Homo sapiens: one gene and its partners. The protein of the gene in region 1 interacts with the protein of each later gene in a pairwise test. Each region holds a gene or a part of one and is shown in the gene's direction. Other genes may lie near its edges.

What was found.
Region 2: the proteins of RERE (region 1) and EFEMP1 interact in a two-hybrid assay, tested with the Homo sapiens proteins (one large-scale study listed by BioGRID and IntAct).
Region 3: the proteins of RERE (region 1) and ALG13 interact in a two-hybrid assay, tested with the Homo sapiens proteins (one large-scale study listed by BioGRID and IntAct).
Region 4: the proteins of RERE (region 1) and TRIM22 interact in a two-hybrid assay, tested with the Homo sapiens proteins (one large-scale study listed by BioGRID and IntAct).
Region 5: the proteins of RERE (region 1) and PRRC2B interact in a two-hybrid assay, tested with the Homo sapiens proteins (one large-scale study listed by BioGRID and IntAct).

The regions. Positions count from the first base shown.
Region 1 is NC_000001.11:8,352,621-8,356,140, reverse strand, and holds part of RERE (arginine-glutamic acid dipeptide repeats protein), read left to right. Parts: coding exon 1-41; intron 42-541; coding exon 542-722; intron 723-1,020; coding exon 1,021-1,054; 3' UTR 1,055-3,520. UniProt on the Homo sapiens protein: Plays a role as a transcriptional repressor during development. May play a role in the control of cell survival. Overexpression of RERE recruits BAX to the nucleus particularly to POD and triggers caspase-3 activation, leading to cell death.
Region 2 is NC_000002.12:55,913,768-55,917,287, reverse strand, and holds part of EFEMP1 (EGF-containing fibulin-like extracellular matrix protein 1 precursor), read left to right. Parts: intron 1-3,520. UniProt on the Homo sapiens protein: Binds EGFR, the EGF receptor, inducing EGFR autophosphorylation and the activation of downstream signaling pathways. May play a role in cell adhesion and migration. May function as a negative regulator of chondrocyte differentiation.
Region 3 is NC_000023.11:111,754,159-111,757,668, forward strand, and holds part of ALG13 (UDP-N-acetylglucosamine transferase subunit ALG13), read left to right. Parts: intron 1-3,429; coding exon 3,430-3,510. UniProt on the Homo sapiens protein: Catalytic subunit of the UDP-N-acetylglucosamine transferase complex that operates in the biosynthetic pathway of dolichol-linked oligosaccharides, the glycan precursors employed in protein asparagine (N)-glycosylation.
Region 4 is NC_000011.10:5,692,780-5,696,299, forward strand, and holds part of TRIM22 (E3 ubiquitin-protein ligase TRIM22), read left to right. Parts: intron 1-3,387; 5' UTR 3,388-3,453; coding exon 3,454-3,520. UniProt on the Homo sapiens protein: Interferon-induced E3 ubiquitin ligase that plays important roles in innate and adaptive immunity.
Region 5 is NC_000009.12:131,397,077-131,400,596, forward strand, and holds part of PRRC2B (protein PRRC2B), read left to right. Parts: intron 1-3,520.

The DNA.
Region 1 (3,520 bases):
GCCCCCACACGAGCACGAGATGCTTCGCCACCCAGTTTTCGGTAAGACTTCCCCTCCAGGAGGGGCGGGGAGGCCGTGTGAGGGTTGGGTTGGGGTCTGGTCTGCTGTCTTCATTCATTACTCATTCATTCATTCATGCATTGAGCAGGTGGGTTCGCTCCCCCTGCATGCAGGGGGTCCGTGGGGGAACAAGCCTCCTGCCCTCTGGGGGCTGTCTGGGGTAGGGGTCATAAATGCATCAGCCTTGCTAAGAGCCGGTGAAAGTAGCAGAGGGGACTCACGGCAGGTCTCTGAAGGAGAAGCACTTGGGCTGAGGCCTTGGAGGAGGGGCCAGGCAGGTCCAGGCAGAGGCACCCAAGGGCACCTCCTGCCTCCCCAGAGGCTCTGCCCTCTGGCTGTCTGCAGAGTCTGGGAGGGGCTGGCTCCTGTGTCCGAACTGGCACCTCTCCTGTGCTCTTTGCCGTTTGCTGTGCCTGTGCCGCCCTGGTCTTGGCCAGTCCTCTGGCTATTTCTGTAGCGCAGGTTGTTTTGTGTTCGGCAGGCACCCCCTACCCCCGTGACCTGCCTGGGGCCATCCCACCCCCCATGTCAGCAGCCCACCAGCTGCAGGCCATGCATGCCCAGTCGGCCGAGCTGCAGAGACTGGCCATGGAGCAGCAGTGGCTGCATGGACACCCCCACATGCATGGTGGCCACCTACCAAGTCAGGAAGATTATTACAGGTGAGGTGGGGTGCTGGGAGGGAGTGGAGGGGTTATCTGAGCCCAGGCTCCCAACCTCCCCGTGTGCCCAGGGCCAGGCTCCTCCCCCTCTGCCTGCTGGGCCCTGGAGGGGACATTGTGGAACCATGGTGATGGGAGAAACAGAGGAAGGGAGGTGTTGGGAGGGTAGGTCAGCTACACAGGAGGCTGCGGGCTTGGGGTTGGATTGCCTGGCTGTTGTCTTTGGGGTTGCCTCCAGCCTGCGTGACTGCCTGCCTAGGCCTGAGACTAAATACGCTTTCCTGTTTTGTCTTTCCAGTCGACTGAAGAAAGAAGGTGACAAGCAGTTATAAGTTATTTATTTGTTAACGCTGGCTGTGGAAACCCCAGTTCTTGGGGGGAGAAACAGGACTTTTTACATAAAATAGGAGCTGCAAAAGCAAAAAGAATATCTTCTAAAGATTTCTTTATATATTTAAAAACCCACAACTAAAAATGTATCCACATAGTAGTGTTCGTTTGTCGAGAGGATTTCCTGAGACTGGTTTGGATCTCCCTGCATGACAGTCCCCCAGAAACTTAGTGAGTCCTGGACTGGACTGAACATCCAGAAAGCTTCCCTGCAATCTTGGGGTTTGGCTTTAGTTTTCTTTTCCTTGATTTCTCAGTAGGTGCTAGAATCCAGTTCACACCCTTCACTGTGCGTGCAGACACACTGACACACTCCGCCACGAGTGCTCCAGAGCCCACGAGGCTTGCAGATCGGGGGCATAGGAATTTGGAATCCAAGAGCTATAATTTTTAAAAAAAAAAATCTTTTATTTTAATACATTGTAGGAAATCTTCATAATTGGAGAAAGTTCTGCAGCATGGCTTTTTACGTCTGTAAATAAATAATTTTAGAACAGCCTTTTTTTCTTCCATAAACTACTATTGTGATCTATTTTTTCCAGCCATGTCACTAATTGTGAATTCCTACCAACTATTGACAGAATACAGAGTTGATTTTTTAATAAAAAGTTATATATAATTATCCCTTTAATTAAAGGGAGCAAAGGGGCGTTCCACATGGACAGAGGCTTGGACCGAGGCCTGGTCACAGCAGCGAGCATCCAGGGTTTGCAGGGACGATGTTACAGACTCTGTTTTCTGCCTGGCGTTTCACTTGTGTCTGCTCCTAGCCTGTGCTCTGCCAGCAGCACAGACATCTGCTCCATCAGACCTCTTCCATTTTGCACAGGGAGTGCAGGAGGTGAATGTTCACTTTCTGTTCTCCAGTGTCACTGTTCTGTTTCCACGGGATGGAAAGCGCATGGGCCTGTGTCCATTGTAGATTTCCTTCTAGATTTCTGTGTACACACACTTGATTGTTCTGGATGAATGTCTTTTTTAATACTCCGAAAATTTCATCATCTAAGAAAATGATTCCATACAAATAACTCAGCACACAAGTGACCCAGGACATATGCCTGCCAAAGGGATGTGTTAGAAGGCTGCCTTCTCATGCGCATTGTCACTTGGATCTTGTGGTGAGGACGGCCCCATCTTTCTTGCCACAGATTGAGGCCACTTTTGAGCAAGGGAGATCCTGGAGTTAAGACAGGTGTTGGGGGCAGCCTGTATTTTACCCTAGGGGCAGGTCTGCATGGTGACCCCACATTGCACTGGTAAACCATTTGAGTCCCACTCTTCATCCTGGAAGTGGGAACTGGAGTCCCACCCACAGTGCATTCAGAAAGCATGCTGTGTGGGGGCTGCTTCTCAGGAGGCCAGGCCCTTCTGAGCGGAACCGTCCTGGAGAGAGCCTGCCCTCGTTTCCAGGCTGCAGCCGTAACGCACTTTCTCCCAGGCTGAGGGCGGGTGTTCTGGGGTGTCTGCCCTCTGTCGGCCCTGCTTCCTGCCAGGACGTGGCCTCTTCCGATCCTTTTCTCTCAGACACTGGAGGTCTCTTCTGCCATTGTGCTGGTCCCATCCCAAGAATTGTAGGACAGAGACCACACTGGGTCGGCGGACACAAAGTCCATCCAGGACCCAGGCCGCAGAGGGAGCAGGAAGAGATGCTGATAGTTTGATCTAGAAACCAGCAGCTACTGGCTCAAATTCAGGTTCTGGCGTCAAATAGCGACATTTCCAGTTTCTCTTAAAAACCGTGTTTGGTTTCAGTTGGGATAGGCTTGTTTTGTCTGTTGAAAATGTTTCTAGTTTTTTTTCTTTCATTTTTCTCTCATTCCATTTCTGCCTTAACTTTAGTTTGTTCACAGGGAGGCAAAGCTGACATGAACCTTTTGTCGTGGGACTTCAGGCCACATTGGCTTGAAGGCATTCGTTTCCTTCTGGGGTGGGGACAGGCCCTCATGGCAGGCTTGTTCCCGTGGCTCTGAGCGAGGCCTCTTCCTGCTGGGCTCCCAGACTCCTGCATCCAGGCCCCCACCTTCTCGGCTTCTGGTTTTTCTTTCTTTTTGGTAGAACACAACATCTACCATTCAGTTAAACCTTCTTTATCTCCTCCTTTGGCATCCATTTTTCCAAAGAAGAGTCGAGTCCTCTGAGGTCTGTGCTTGAAAGCCGTCCGAAGGCATTCTTGTTAGCTTTGCTTTTCTCCCCATATCCCAAGGCGAAGCGCTGAGATTCTTCCATCTAAAAAACCCTCGACCCGAAACCCTCACCAGATAAACTACAGTTTGTTTAGGAGGCCCTGACCTTCATGGTGTCTTTGAAGCCCAACCACTCGGTTTCCTTCGGATTTTCCTCCCTTTGTTCGGGGTTTGGTTTGGCTCCTCTGTGTGTGTCCGTATCTTGTTCGGTGTCCTCGAGGTTGA
Region 2 (3,520 bases), on another chromosome or scaffold:
AACCAGAGGTCACACAGGTGCTAAGTGCAGAGCTGACCTTCCAACCCAGGAAGGCGGGTGCCAAAGTCACAGCTGGCAAAAGTCACCATCAGGTTATTCACTGGGAATTTGAAATTATGCTGTCAAGCTACTCTACAGATGTACCCCTTTGGTTTCTCAAGTTTCTTTTCATCGAACTTGCCACAGACTTATTTTCCTCATTCAGGAGTAAAGAAATGGGGCTCCTGCTTCTCATTACCTTGGAGGGATTCTCCCCCACTCACGTTTATATCTCTTTTAAGCTCTCATTTGACGACGTTTCACTTATATCACTTGCACCATGGCATCATCTGCCTAGGGTTTTCTGTTTATTTTCACAGAGCATACACATCACTGTGTATTCTAGAAACAGCTGTAGGCTCGTATTAGCAAAGTGATAAGAATCTGGGGCTTTGAAGACATGTAGGATATTAGCTAACTGAACTGTGCTATGAGATTGTTTCCCTTTCTTCTTGGCAAACCATTTCAGAGCAGCCTGGTGTGGAGACTGTGTTACTGAAATGGGGCCATAGGAGCCTCCAGACTCCTTTCTCCCTGCCAGAGGCTGATTAGGTAGATCCCATAGTGCAGAACTCCATGTCACCACCACATACGTGTATGGCACACGTGGGCCAATGGAAAGGGTCCAGGAGTTCTTACTTTCTAACTGGTCATGTGTAAGGAAGAGAGCACCTTCCTCCCTTAACACCAAGGGTTTCAATAGAGACCACTGAGCTGCTACATTAAATGAAAGATGCATTTTCTTGTGCCCTGGGATGCTGCCCCTTATTCACCCGTGTTTAGTTTTATCTTCTGTGTAAAAGATACTCGAGTTTAAATGGCTTAAAAATGAAGCAAGGGGCTGGGCACGGTGGCTCACGCCTGTAATCCCAGCACTTTGGGAAGATGAGGCGGGTGGATCACCTGAGGTCGGGAGTTCAAGACCAGCCTGGCCAACATGGCGAAACCCCATCTCTACTAAAAATACAAAAATTCTCTATGAATGGTGGCACATGCCTGTAGTCTCAAATACTAGAGAGGCTGAAGCAGGAGAATTGCTTGAACCTGGGAGGTGAAGGTTGCAGTGAGCCGAGATCATGCTACTGCACTCCAGCCTGGGCAACAGAGTGAGACTCTGTCTCAAAAAAAAAAAAAAAAAAAATGAAGGAAACTTGTCATGCTCTGACTCTTATTTATTTCATATTTTGTTTGTAAGCTTTAAGTACCCCACATCAAGACCTAACCCATGTTGTGATGGTGTCACTTTTCAGAGGGTGCATCGTATTAGCATCTGTTTCGTGTTACTGTCATGAGTCAGAATTCCAGTATTGATGATGAATGCTTCAGCATCTGCTTGATATTCTGATATTGAATTTAAGGATTATGTCAAGGAGATAAAATGATGAGGTTATTCTTATACATGTATTTGGGTTAATACTGATAAAAAAAATCTTGAGTTTATTTAAGATAGACCAACTTTTAATTGTGTTATTTAGTTATATAACTAGACTGGAAAGTTTGGTAGTATTTTTCCCAAAATCAAAAAATTTTGCTGAAAAATTCTTAAGTATCAACTTTTATATACTGAATTATTTTGAATACTTTAGATGTGTACTTTAATGGTACTTGGGAGAAAAAAAAACCAGATAAATGAATGAGTCATTTCCCAAAGTAGTTTGTAGACCGTCATTGACATTTATGGTTGAATTCAAGAACAATGCCCAGAACTAAATGAAGAGGTCCTAGAATAAAATATATTCAAGACTTACAACATGTATTGGTTACGGTAGAAACTGTACTGTGATTAATGAAAATAAAATCCTATTTAACTTTTCTAGAAAATATTTAGACTACCTAACAAAGTAAGTTACGTTTCACATAGTAAAACATTTATAGTTCTTTCTTCTTTGGGAATTTTTTTTAGTTATAAGCAGACTATTAAGTGCCTTGCTTATGGAATATGCTAAATACATACCTGTTGACTGTGTGCACACAGGTTATTTCCAACCCAAATTGATCTGTGTAATTCAGCCAGTTTCTAAAATTTGGGATTGGTGTCTATACCATTGAAAGCAGGGTTAAAAGTTTTTTGGAAGGCTTAGGGCTTAAGTTGGATTTCTTCCCACCTCACAATTTTGCAAAGTGCCCATAAATGTGGATTTACTTAATTGTTGATAAAAGGGGGTTATTTCATATGATAACAACAGGATAATCTGTCTAGGGAATTTGACTAACATAAGTCGAGTCACACTTGTGCCCATTTCTTATTGAGCTAATCAAACATGCAGTCCAGCTTCTTCTAATTGCCTGCAGATGTATGACATTCTCATTCCAGGCCAGCAGCACAAAATAATATTTTATAACCAATGTGGAAGTATGGGGACCTCTGTTTAGAACAATAATGTGCTCTAAGGACCTATATTATTGACATCATCATGGAGTTTGAAGAGTCTTCTGTTTTAATAAAGATCTCCACTCCCTTTTAAATGTTGCATATTTATGCCCAGTAATCCAGACACATTTCCTATGGTCTACTGGATAGAATAAATGAATCTTACAGATGAGTCTTATTTGCATAAAAATTATTTCTTTTTTCTATGTATATTTTTTAGCAGGTATAGTTTATCATTATATAACCTAAAACTCAGGACATTTTAAATGTAAGAACTGAAATCTGTACTGTGTTTCAGTCTTCAAATCAATTGTGCCTTTGAATGCACTATACCAGTCACAGATGGCTTCTAAATAATTTAAATAATACCACTAGATATTTTAAATGTACACTATTTTATAAATATATCCTTTAAATAGCTGTCCATTTAACTGTTTAATGAAAACATGATATGTTTATTCCCCTTCATGTATTTTTGGGGGTGTTTTCAGTTTTGTACAAAAACAAGGAGTTTGAAATACAACATAACATTCAAAGATCAGGTCACAGTGAGCAGGTTTTTTTCAGGTAATTTTTTGCTAAATGAGGATCATGCTGTGGGAGCCAGTAACGCTGGGAGTTTCCCATGACTGACATTATTCTTGGCATCTATAAAATGAAGATCATTTCAGTGTTACATACCTGGGGCCATGTATAGATAGAGTTTTCGAAATTAATTGTTTCCATTAGATATCATCTGCCTCAAAGACAACAGATACTCATCTACACCAAAAAGAAGTTGAATGAATGGGGAATATATTATAATCTGTTGATGGCTCACTTTAGTTTTCTACACCTTTATTGCATAGTCTCTTTCTCCTTTTTTTTTGAGACAGAGTCTCACGCTGTCACCCAGGCTGGAGTGCAGAGGTGCTATCTTGGCTCACTGCAACTTCCACCTTCTGGGTTTAAGCAATTCTTGTGCCTCAGCCTCCCGAGTAGCTGTGACTACAGGCGTGCACCACCACACCCTGCTAATTTTTGTATTTTTAGTAGAGATGGGGTTTCACCATGTTGGCCAGGCTGGTCTCGAGCTCCTGACCTCAGATGATGTGCCCACCTCAGCCTCCC
Region 3 (3,510 bases), on another chromosome or scaffold:
CCAATGACAAAAACCACATGATTATCTCAATAGATGCAGAAAAGGCCTTCTATAAAATTCAGCACCCCTTCATGCTAAAAACTCTCTATAAACTAGGTATTGATGGAATGTATCTCAAATTAATAAGAGCTATTTATGACAAACCCACAGCCAATATCATACTGAATGGGCAAAAGCTGGAAGCATTCCCTTTGAAAACCGGTACAAGACAAGGATGTCCTCTCTCACCACTCCTATTCAGCATAGTATAGGAAGTTCTGGCCAGGGCAGTCAGGTAAGAGAAAGAAAGAAAGAAAGGGTATACGAATAGGAAGACAGGAAGTCACTTTGTCTTTGTTTGCAGATGACATAACTGTATATTTTAAAAACCCCATTGTCTCAGCCCAAAAGCTCCTTAAGCTGATAAGCAACTTCAGCAAAGTTGAAGTTGTGTGCAACACAAAATCAGTGTGCAAAAATCACAAGCATGTCTATACACCAATAATAGCCAAACCATGAGTGAATTCCCATTCACAATTGCTACAAAGAGAATAAAATACCTAGGAATCCAACTTACAAGGGATGTGAAGGACCTCTTCAAGGAGAACTACAAATCACTGCTCAATGATATAAGAGAGGACACAAAGGGAAAAACGTTCCATGCTTATGGATAGGAAAAATCAATATCATGAAAATGGCCATACTGCCCAAAGTAATTTATAGATTCAATGTTATTCCCATCAAGCTACCATTGACTTCCTTCACAGAATTAGAAAAAACTACTTTAAATTTCATATGGAACCAAAAAAGAGTCCATATAGCCAAGACAATCCCAAGCAAAAAGAACAAAGCTGGAGGCATCGTGCTATCTGACTTCAAACTATTTTACAAGGCCACAGTAACCAAAACAGCATGGTACTGGTACCAAAACAGGTATATAGACCAATAGGACCAATAGAACAGAACAGAGGACTCAGAAATAACACCACACATCTACAACCATCTGATCTTTGGCAAACCTGACAAAAACAAGGAATGGGGAAAGGATTCCCTATTTAATAAATGGTGCTGGGAAAACTGGCTAGCCATATGCAGAAAACTGAAACTGGACCCATTCCTTACATCTTATACAAAAATTAACTCAAGATGGATTAAAGACTTAAATGTAAGACCTAAAACCATAAAAACCCTAGAAGAAAACCTAGGCATTACCATTCAGGACATAGACATGGGCAAAAACTTCATGACTAAAACACCAAAAGCAATGGCAACAAAAGCAAAACTAAAATTGACAAGTGGGATCTAATTAAACTAAAGAGCTTCTGCACAGAAAAAGAACCTATCAGTGTGAACAGGCAACCTACAGAATGGGAGAAAAGTTTTGCAATCTATCCATCTGACAAAGGGCTAATATCCAGAATCTACAAGGAACTTAAATTTACAAGAAATAAACAACCCCATCAAAAAGTGGGCAAAGAATATGAACAGACACTTTTCAAAAGAAGACATTTATGTGGCCAACAAACAGGAAGAACTCATCACTGGTCATTAGAGAAATGCAAATCAAAAGCACAATGAGATACCATCTCATGCCAGTTAGAATGGCAATCATTAAAAAGTCAGGAAACAACAGATGCTGGAGAGGATGTGGAGAAATAGGAACACTTTTACACTGTTGGTTGGAGTGTAAATTAGTTCAACCATTGTGGAAGACAGTGTGGTAATTCCTCAAGGATCTAGAATGAGGAATACAATTTGATTTAGCAATCCCATTACTGGGTATATACCCAAAGGATTATAAATCATTTTATAAAGACACATGCACATGTATGTTTACTGCAGCACTATTCACAATGCCAAAGACTTGGAACCAACTCACATACCCATCAATGATAGACTGCATAAAGAAAATGTGGCACATACACACCATGGAATACTATGCAGCCATAAAAAAGAATGAGTTCATGTCCTTTGTAGGGACATGGATGAAGCTGGCAACCATTCTCAGCAAACTATCACAAGGACAGAAAACCAAACACCGCATGTTCTCACTCATAAGTGGGAGTTGAACAGTGAGAACATACGGGCACAGGGAGGTGAACATCACACATTGGGGCCTGTCGCGGGGTTGGGGGCAAAGGGAGGGAGAGCATTAGGACAAATACCTAATGTAGGTGACAGATTGATGGGTGTAGAAAACCACCATGGCACATGTATACCCATGTAACAAACCTGCATGTTCTGCATGTGTATCCCAAAACTTGTGTAATAAATATAAAAATAAAAATAGCTGCATTTTTAAAGCACTCATGTGTTCATAGATGCTTGCTCAACACTGTTTTTTCACCACTCCCCTGAGTTGTAGAGGCAGGTGGGTACTGACAAATGTCTTTATCAGTGAAAGGTGTCTCCGAGTTGAGGTGAGAGCTCTTTTATTTTAGTCTTTCAGGGATCACTTTCCCTCTGAAATACACTTGACTTAAAATGTAACAAGATGGCATATTTACTGAAAGGAATAATGCATCTTAAGATCTGTCAGATGATGATAAACTCTGTGCTCTCCTGGATAATGCTCAGATTAGTTCATATTCCCTGACACTGATTTCCCTGAAGCTTTAGACATGTCAGTGCCAAGAAAACTGTCTTCCCAAATAGTACACATCTATAAATTAAGAGTAATGGGGTGGGTTTTTGTTCTTTGAGACTATTTTTCCTAAATTTAGTTTCAAGAATTGATAAACCGCTTGCCCCTTCTGTTATGTTAGTTTATTATAGTCACATGTGGAAACTTTGTAATCTATTTCACTGAGGCATTTAAAAATATTCTGCCTTTTACATCATAGAATACCAGGAGATGCTGAATAGATATTTCAGTATTTTTCTTATTAGAAATCATAGTGTCCATTGTAGTACATTTTGAAAATACTGTGGTATAAAGAAAACTAAAATCACCTCTATGATCACTGTATACTTTATATATTTTCTTACAATTTTGTATTTTACAAACTATGGATTATGCTGTATAATTTTTAAATCTTTTAACAATACAAGCATTTTTTCTTTAAATATTTGACAGCATGATTTTCGTTGCCTGTATAGTATTTCATTACGGGTATATAATTTATCCAGTTCCCTGTTGTTAAATACTATGTGCAATGTTTTTTGCTTTTAAAAATACTATAAAAGACACCTTTGTATACAGGTCTTTTAGATTATTTCCTAAAAGAATTCTTAGGTTTAAATATGAGATACAAATGCTGCAAAAGATCCTAAAGTTCTAATAGAGAACAGACTGTCAAGTTTTTAGGTCAAAAAAGTCATTGCTACCTCACCTGAAAATCGTGGCCCAATTCTTATTTTTTTTTTTTTTTTGTCTGTGGGGAACTGTATTACATTAAGAATAGAGAAGAGTGAAGTTTCTTATTTTTTTGTTGCCCTTTCTTGCTCAAGTGCTATTACCACAGCTACTGGCACTCCATGGTCTATGTGCCACAGATGCAGCAGCAGCTTCATGTAGAGAATTATCCAGTC
Region 4 (3,520 bases), on another chromosome or scaffold:
TGAGACCTTGTCTCAAAAAAAAAAAAAAAAGATATTGATGGCTAAACCCCTTATAATTTTTCTCCTTATTGTGTAGCCACACTAATTTAATTTAATCTTTTTTTTTTTTTTTCTTTTGACGGAGTCTTGCTCTGTTGCCAGGCTGGAGTGCAGTGGTGTGATCTCAGCTCACTGCAACCTCCGCCTCCTGGGTTCAAGTGATTCTCCTGCCTCAGCCTCCAGAGTAGCGGGGACTACAAGCAACTGCTGTCACACCTGGCTAATGTTTGTATATATATATATTTTTTAGTAGATACGGGGTCTCACCATAGTGGCCAGGCTGGCCTCAAACTCCTGACCTCAGGTAATCTGCCCGCCTCGGCCCCCCAAACTGCTGGGATTACAGGCTTGAGCCACAGCGCCTGGCCATCTTTTTTTTTTTTTTTTTTTTGATTTAAATTGCACAGATAAAGAAAGCTTCTGTGCAGGTAATCAGAGTATTCTGAAACAAGGAAGCTACGGACCTAGTTAGCCTTCACCGTGTCATAGAAACTTCTACATTCGCACCACCTTCAAAGGGGAGCATGCATTTTGTTTATGTGTCTGTCTGTCTACCTGTCTTAGGTCGGAAGGGTTTCAATGGGGCTACATTTCTTCAATGTTAGAATAAAGAATGAATAGGCCGGGCGCGGTGGCTCACGCCAGTAATCCCAGCACTTTGGGAGGCCGAGGCGGGCAGATCATGAGGTCCGGAGATCGAGACCATCCTGGCTAACACAGTGAAACCCCGTCTCTACTAAAAAGACACCAAAAAATCACCCGGGTGTGGTGGCGGGCGCCTGTAGTCCCAGCTACTTGGAGGCTGAGGCAGGAGAATGGCGTGAACCCGAGAGGCGGAGCTGGCAAGGAGCCGAGATCGCACCACTGCACTCCAGCCTGGGTGACAGAGTGAGACTCCGTCTCAAAAAAAAAAAAAAAAAAAAAAGAATGAATAAATCAAGAAAAATAAGCACTTGTATTAGTTTTCTAGAGCTGTCATAGAAAAAGTACCAAAAGTGGTTGGCTTAAATAGCAGAAATATATTGCCTTACAATTCTGGAGGCTAGTTATCCAAGATAAAATGTGTTGACAGGGCTGGTTCCTTCTGAAGGCTATGAAGGAGGCCTCTGGTCCATGCCTCTCTTCTAGCTTCTAATAGTTTCCTGGAAACCTTTAGCATTCCTTGGCTTATAGGTGCATCACCCTGATCTCTGCTTTCTTCTTCACCCTGGCATATTCCTTGTGTATAAATGTCCCTTTTTGATAAGGACACAGTCATGTTGGATAAGGGTCTACCCTAATGAGCACATGGTAACTAAATAGTATTTAAATATACTAGTTTCAAATAAGAGCACATTCACACATTAGGATTTCAACATCATTTGGGGAGAAACAGGACAGACTTTATCTCTCTGCTACATATTCTCAATGTACTTGGCCTCCTTTATGGATTGAGACTTTTCTCCCATGACCAACAGATGTTTCTTTGAAATGTATATTGAGTCTATATCATGTGTGTGATCCTATAACTATTTTAGCCTCTTTTCCTCTTCCCAAAATATATACATCTTTAGGTTCCTATCACCATCCTTGCCATATGTCCAGGCCAAGGTGAAATTTCAACATTTAAAACCACAGCATGCCCCAGAACTACATAGCTGGTCTGGATCTCTCCATTTCTATACCCCCAATAGCACTGGGTATCAGTATAGCTCTTGTAGCCTTTACCTTTGTTGTCTGTATAAATCTGTGCTGCAGTGGAGAGAACTCTGAAGGAGGACCTTGGGGACAATACATTCACTCTTACTCTACCTATTAGATTAGAATGAGTGATCTTTGTAAGTCACTTGATTCTATTGACACACCTGAAGAAAGGGAGTATTCTTATTTCTCAAGGGTTTTGTATGAAGAATAAAGAAGTCAAAATGATTTCTAAATTGTAACTGCTTATAAAATTGTTCATGATAAAATTATTTTCCTATTATGGTGTTGGTGGTGGTGGTGTGTGGGTGTGTGTGTATGTCTTTGGGGATGGAGTGTGAGGTCATGGGAGGACTTGCTATGGGTAGATGTGTTAGGATGTAAACACTTCTTCACTGGAAACCATAATTGTGGTCCCAAAGGTCAGCTATTGGGAAACTGCTAATTGATGGAAAGAAAAGATGAAAATCTGATTAAAAGGTCTAATCATCTATGGAGGGATAAGGAAGTTGTGGCTTTATATATTCGTTAAATGTTTTATTCCTGTATGTGATTCACTTTTCTAGGTATAGAGGACATATCAGTGAACAAAAAAAGTCCCAGGTCTATGAATGGATTACTTTTCAGGAGGAAGAAGTAGACATTTAAAGAACAATCTTATATATTACATAGTAAAAATAAGAAGCTAAATGTGCAGTGAGTGACAGTACTGGTGGTTTTGCTATAAGTAAATTATAGTATGTCCTTCTAAGAAGAGGACTTCTAAGAGGAGACTGAATTAAATGTAAGAGTGAGTCTTGCTAACATCAGGGGGAGGATCATTTTATGCAGAGAGAGGAGCAAGTGCAAAAGCCTTGAGGAGCCATAGATTTGATAGTTTAATTGAGGAGGTATTTTTTACATGGGGAAAAAAGTCAGAGGAGATAAACCTTAACAGTATAAGTAAAATAATTCAGACACCAAAGACATATATTATGATTCTATTTTTATCAACTGATTAAAAACCCAAAGGATATTAGTAGTGGTTGCCTGGAGCTTGGGATCAGAATAGGAGTGATGGCATTAGGGTTTTTTTTTTTCAGGTGATAAAAATAATTTTAAATTGGGTTACAGTAATAGTTATATAGTTCCACAGATTTACTAGAAATTATTGCATGATACACTTAAAAATGATGTTTGATGCAGTGTTTGATGCTATGTAAATACAATTCAATAGCTTAAAAATATGCAAATATTCATGAATCATGCAAATATTGGGGATACAATCATGCCATTCAGAGAGAAAAGCCTGTGTGCAAGCCCAGGGGCAGGGGTGTGTTTAGTGCATTTAACATGGAAAATGTGTTTTGGGTTGGGGAACAAAAGGCAGGACAAATGATGGGTTACACGAAGCTCTTGGTAGAAGAGCCTCAGTTTGTCCTCTCCAGTAGAAGAGAAAATAACAATAATTGCCTTGATGGGGTGAAATTTGTCCTGAGACAAAAATTAAGAATAAAGTGTTTGAAATTACTACAAAGTCCATTTTATTCTGTCATTGGTTTATTCTTCATGCCTTTCTTTTCTCCTTTCTCTGTTAAATATTAATGTTTTGTCCTGTTCTAAATCTCTGTAAAAGCAGTATTCTTTCTATTCCTTCTTTTCTTACCCTGTCCCCTTCAACATTCTCAGCACTGCAGGAGTTTGTGACCAAGAACTTCAAGAGTCAAGACAGAAGGAAGCCAAGGGAGCAGTGCAATGGATTTCTCAGTAAAGGTAGACATAGAGAAGGAGGTGACCTGCCCCATCTGCCTGGAGCTCCTGA
Region 5 (3,520 bases), on another chromosome or scaffold:
CTTTGATTTTTCCTCGCTTCCTGCCTCTTGGCCCTTCCTTTTTGTCTGACTTCACTCGGGCCCAGTCTGGCTCTATACTGTTAACTGGTTAGTTAGGCCAGGAGATAGTCGCTGCCTCTCCCATGAGCTTCTGCATACCTGTGAATTTTGGTTATCTGTGGCCCCCTAATGCTGATTGCATGCCCTTGCCTTAGGCCCTAAGCCCACTGTGTGGGCGTCCCATCTCGTACAGTGGCCGTCTCCAGCCTCCACTGGGCCCAAATAGGTAAAAAGAAAGCCTGGGGAAGGAAGAGCCAGGAAACCTCGGGAGAGTGGAATTTCAGGAATGGCAGGTCAGAACTGGTTCCAGCATGGGTCCCTTTGCCTTGTGCTTAGCTGAGGGATTTTTGTTATTAATTTTTTTTTTCCTGTTCAACACTCCTAACCTCTTTTGAATTTCAGTTCTCTTTTTTTATCCTGAAGGATTATTTTATTGTACTTTTGAGGGTTTTTTTTTTTTTTTTTTTTTGCCTTGCACAAAGTACTGACTCATGTTGCTAATGGCTGTGGCTGTATGCTAGTTATATGTCTCATTATCCTACCCCTTAAGATTGATCATTTCTGTGTTGGTTTCTATTTCAAACCAGAATAGGCCAGGTGGGTCAATTCATGTATTTCTGAATTCAATAATGAGGCTTCCCTACCGTGAAATGTACATATCTTGTCATGGGCGGACAGGTACTAAATAGAGCCTATCTATACTAGATTTTAAAACAATGGATTTCTCCCCAAAAAACAACATTTCCAGCAGACAATGGGCTTTGTGCTCCAAATCTTGTAATTTTGGTTTTAAATAAATTTCATGTAAGGAGGCAGGGCTAACTAGACTGTCTTCTTTTCAGATCATAACTTGATCTCTTTTTAAGATTATTTCTGGGACTTGTACAGCCTCAGGAAACTTGGGTCTGTCATTGGGACAAAGAAATACAGGCACTGGCTGTGGTGTTGGAGATGGGAGCGACATGGGATATGGTGAGCTTTGTTTCTGGTGAAATAGAATTGTTTGTCATTAGCTTTAGGTTTAAAAGGTGCCATTCAGACTGGACCTCCTCACCTGGGAGCTGGCAGACCTGGGCCTTGCCATTGGCGATATTACTGTTTATACCTCTGGGTGGCACGTGGGAAATCTCTTTTGTGCTGGGAGGTAGGTTTGTCTTAGTGTCTTGAGCCAGAAGTTGTGGTTGAGCTTTGTTCTCAGCTGTACTTGTTGGTTTTCTGTGTGACCTGAGAAGCATCCTTCGTCCGAGCTGAAGTGCACCTCCGAGGTGCTGGCAGCAGCACTGATTTGTGAAGCATTGCGTGCAGCAGGAGTAGCTGGCAGAACAAAGCCTATCTCAAGTTGCTGGCGGTCTTTCACATCTTGTACAGGACTTCCTTCCGTTCTTACCTCTGCAGCCAGTTGTGTGGCTTCCGTCTGGACCGTCTTCCTCCTTTCCAAGATAACCATCAGTCTTTTTCTCTGTGGGGCTGCAGCAGCAGTATTTATTGCATTTTTAATTGACTTGTCAGGCAATAGATACTCCTTGAGCACCTATCATTTGCCAGGCATTGTACAAGGCCCTTTAAATACATTTTTCTTGTGGTAGGGCAAGGTGGCTCATGCCTGTAATCCCAGTACTTGGGGAGGCCAAGGCAGGTGGATTGCTTGAGGCCAGGTTAAGACCAGCCTGGGCAATGTGATGAAAATAAAAAAATGCCTCTTAAAAGAAAAAATTAGTAGGGTATAGTGGCGCATGCCTGTAGTTCTAACTACTTGGGAGGCTGAAGCAGGAGGATCACTTGAGCTTGGGAGGTTGAGGTTGCAGTGAGCCGTGATCATGCCACTGCACTCTAGCCTGGGCGACAGAGTGAGACCCTGTCTCAAAAGAATAAAAAGTAGGTCGGGCACGGTGGCTCACGCCTGTAATCCAAGCACTTTGGCAGGCCGAGGTGGGCGGATCACCTGAGGTCAGGAATTCAAGACCAGCCTGGCCAACATGGTGAAACCCCGTCTCTGCTAAAAATACAAAAATTAGCTGGATGCCGTGGCGAGTGCCTGTAGTCCCAGCTACTCAGGAGGGGTGAGGCTGGAGAATCACTTAAACCTGGGAGGTGGAGGTTGCAGTGAGCCGAGATTGTGCCACTGCATTCCAGCCTGGGAGACAGAGTGAAATTCTGTCTCAAAAAAAAAAAAAAAAAAAAAGTCTGGGCACGGTGGCTCACACCTATAATCCCAGCATTTTGGGAGGCTGAGGTGGGCGGATCACGAGGTCAGGAGATCGAGACCATCCTGGCTAACACGATGAAACCCCGTGTCTACTAAAAATACAAAAAATTAGCCGGGCGTGGTGGCGGGCGCCTGTAGTCCCAGATACTCAGGAGGCTGAGGCAGGAGAATGGCATGAACCCGGGAGGCGGAGTTTGCAGTGAGCCGAGATCACGACACTGCACTCTAGCCTGGGCCACAGAGCGAGACTCCATCTGAAAAAAAAGGAAAATACTGAAAAGAATAAATGCCAAAATAAATATATAAATCACTTGTGACCTCACCATCCAGAGCTAACTGCAGTAAAGTTGCTGGTGTGTTTCTTTCCTCTGATAATGTCTGTGTTTTCTAAATTAGAGCAATAGTATATATACATTGAATACACAGTTGATAGCTTGCTTTTCCCCTTTTAATGTTATAGTGTATTCCTCTACGTTATTTTTATAATTATATAATTGCTATTATACGGATATGCCATAATTTATTGACTCCTGTATTCGTAGACATTTAGATTATTGTTGCCCTCTTTTCCCTCCTATAAGAGAAACTGTAGGGAGCATCTCGGCATGTTAAGTCTTGGTCCACGTGGCTGATTATCTCCCATAAGTGGAATTTCTGGGGTCAGAGGATTGCAGGTTTGTTCTTCTCTTCTGGACAGGATCGGTTGTCTCCTTCAGTCTTTGTCACCTCCCTCTCCAGCCTTGAGCCCAAGGCAGTCTCTTTCTTAGTTTTTTCTTTTTTGAGGCAGGGTCTCACTTTGTCGCCCAGTCTGGAGTGCAGTGATGTGATCTCAGCTCACCGTAACCTCTGCATCCTGGGCTCAAATGATCCTTCTGCCTTAGCCTCCCAAGTAGCTGGGATCCTATAGGCATGCGCCACCATGCCTGACTAAGTTTTGTATTTTTTTGTGGAGACGGGGTTTCGCCATTTTGCCCAGGCTGTTTGTTTTTCTTTTCTTTTCTTTCTTTTTTTTTTTGAGATGGCATCTTGTTCTGTTGCGCAGGCTGGAGTGCAGCCGTGCGATCTTGGCTCACTGCAACCTCCACTTCCTGGGTTCAAGCAATTCTCGTGCCTCAGCCTTCGAGTAGCTGGGATTACAGGCGTGCACCACCACACCTGGCTACTTTTTGTATTTTTAGTAGAGACGGGGTTTTGCCATGTTGGCCAGGCTGGTCTCGAAATCCTGACCTCAGGTGATCCACCTGCCTTGGCCTCCCAAAGTGCTGGGATGACAGG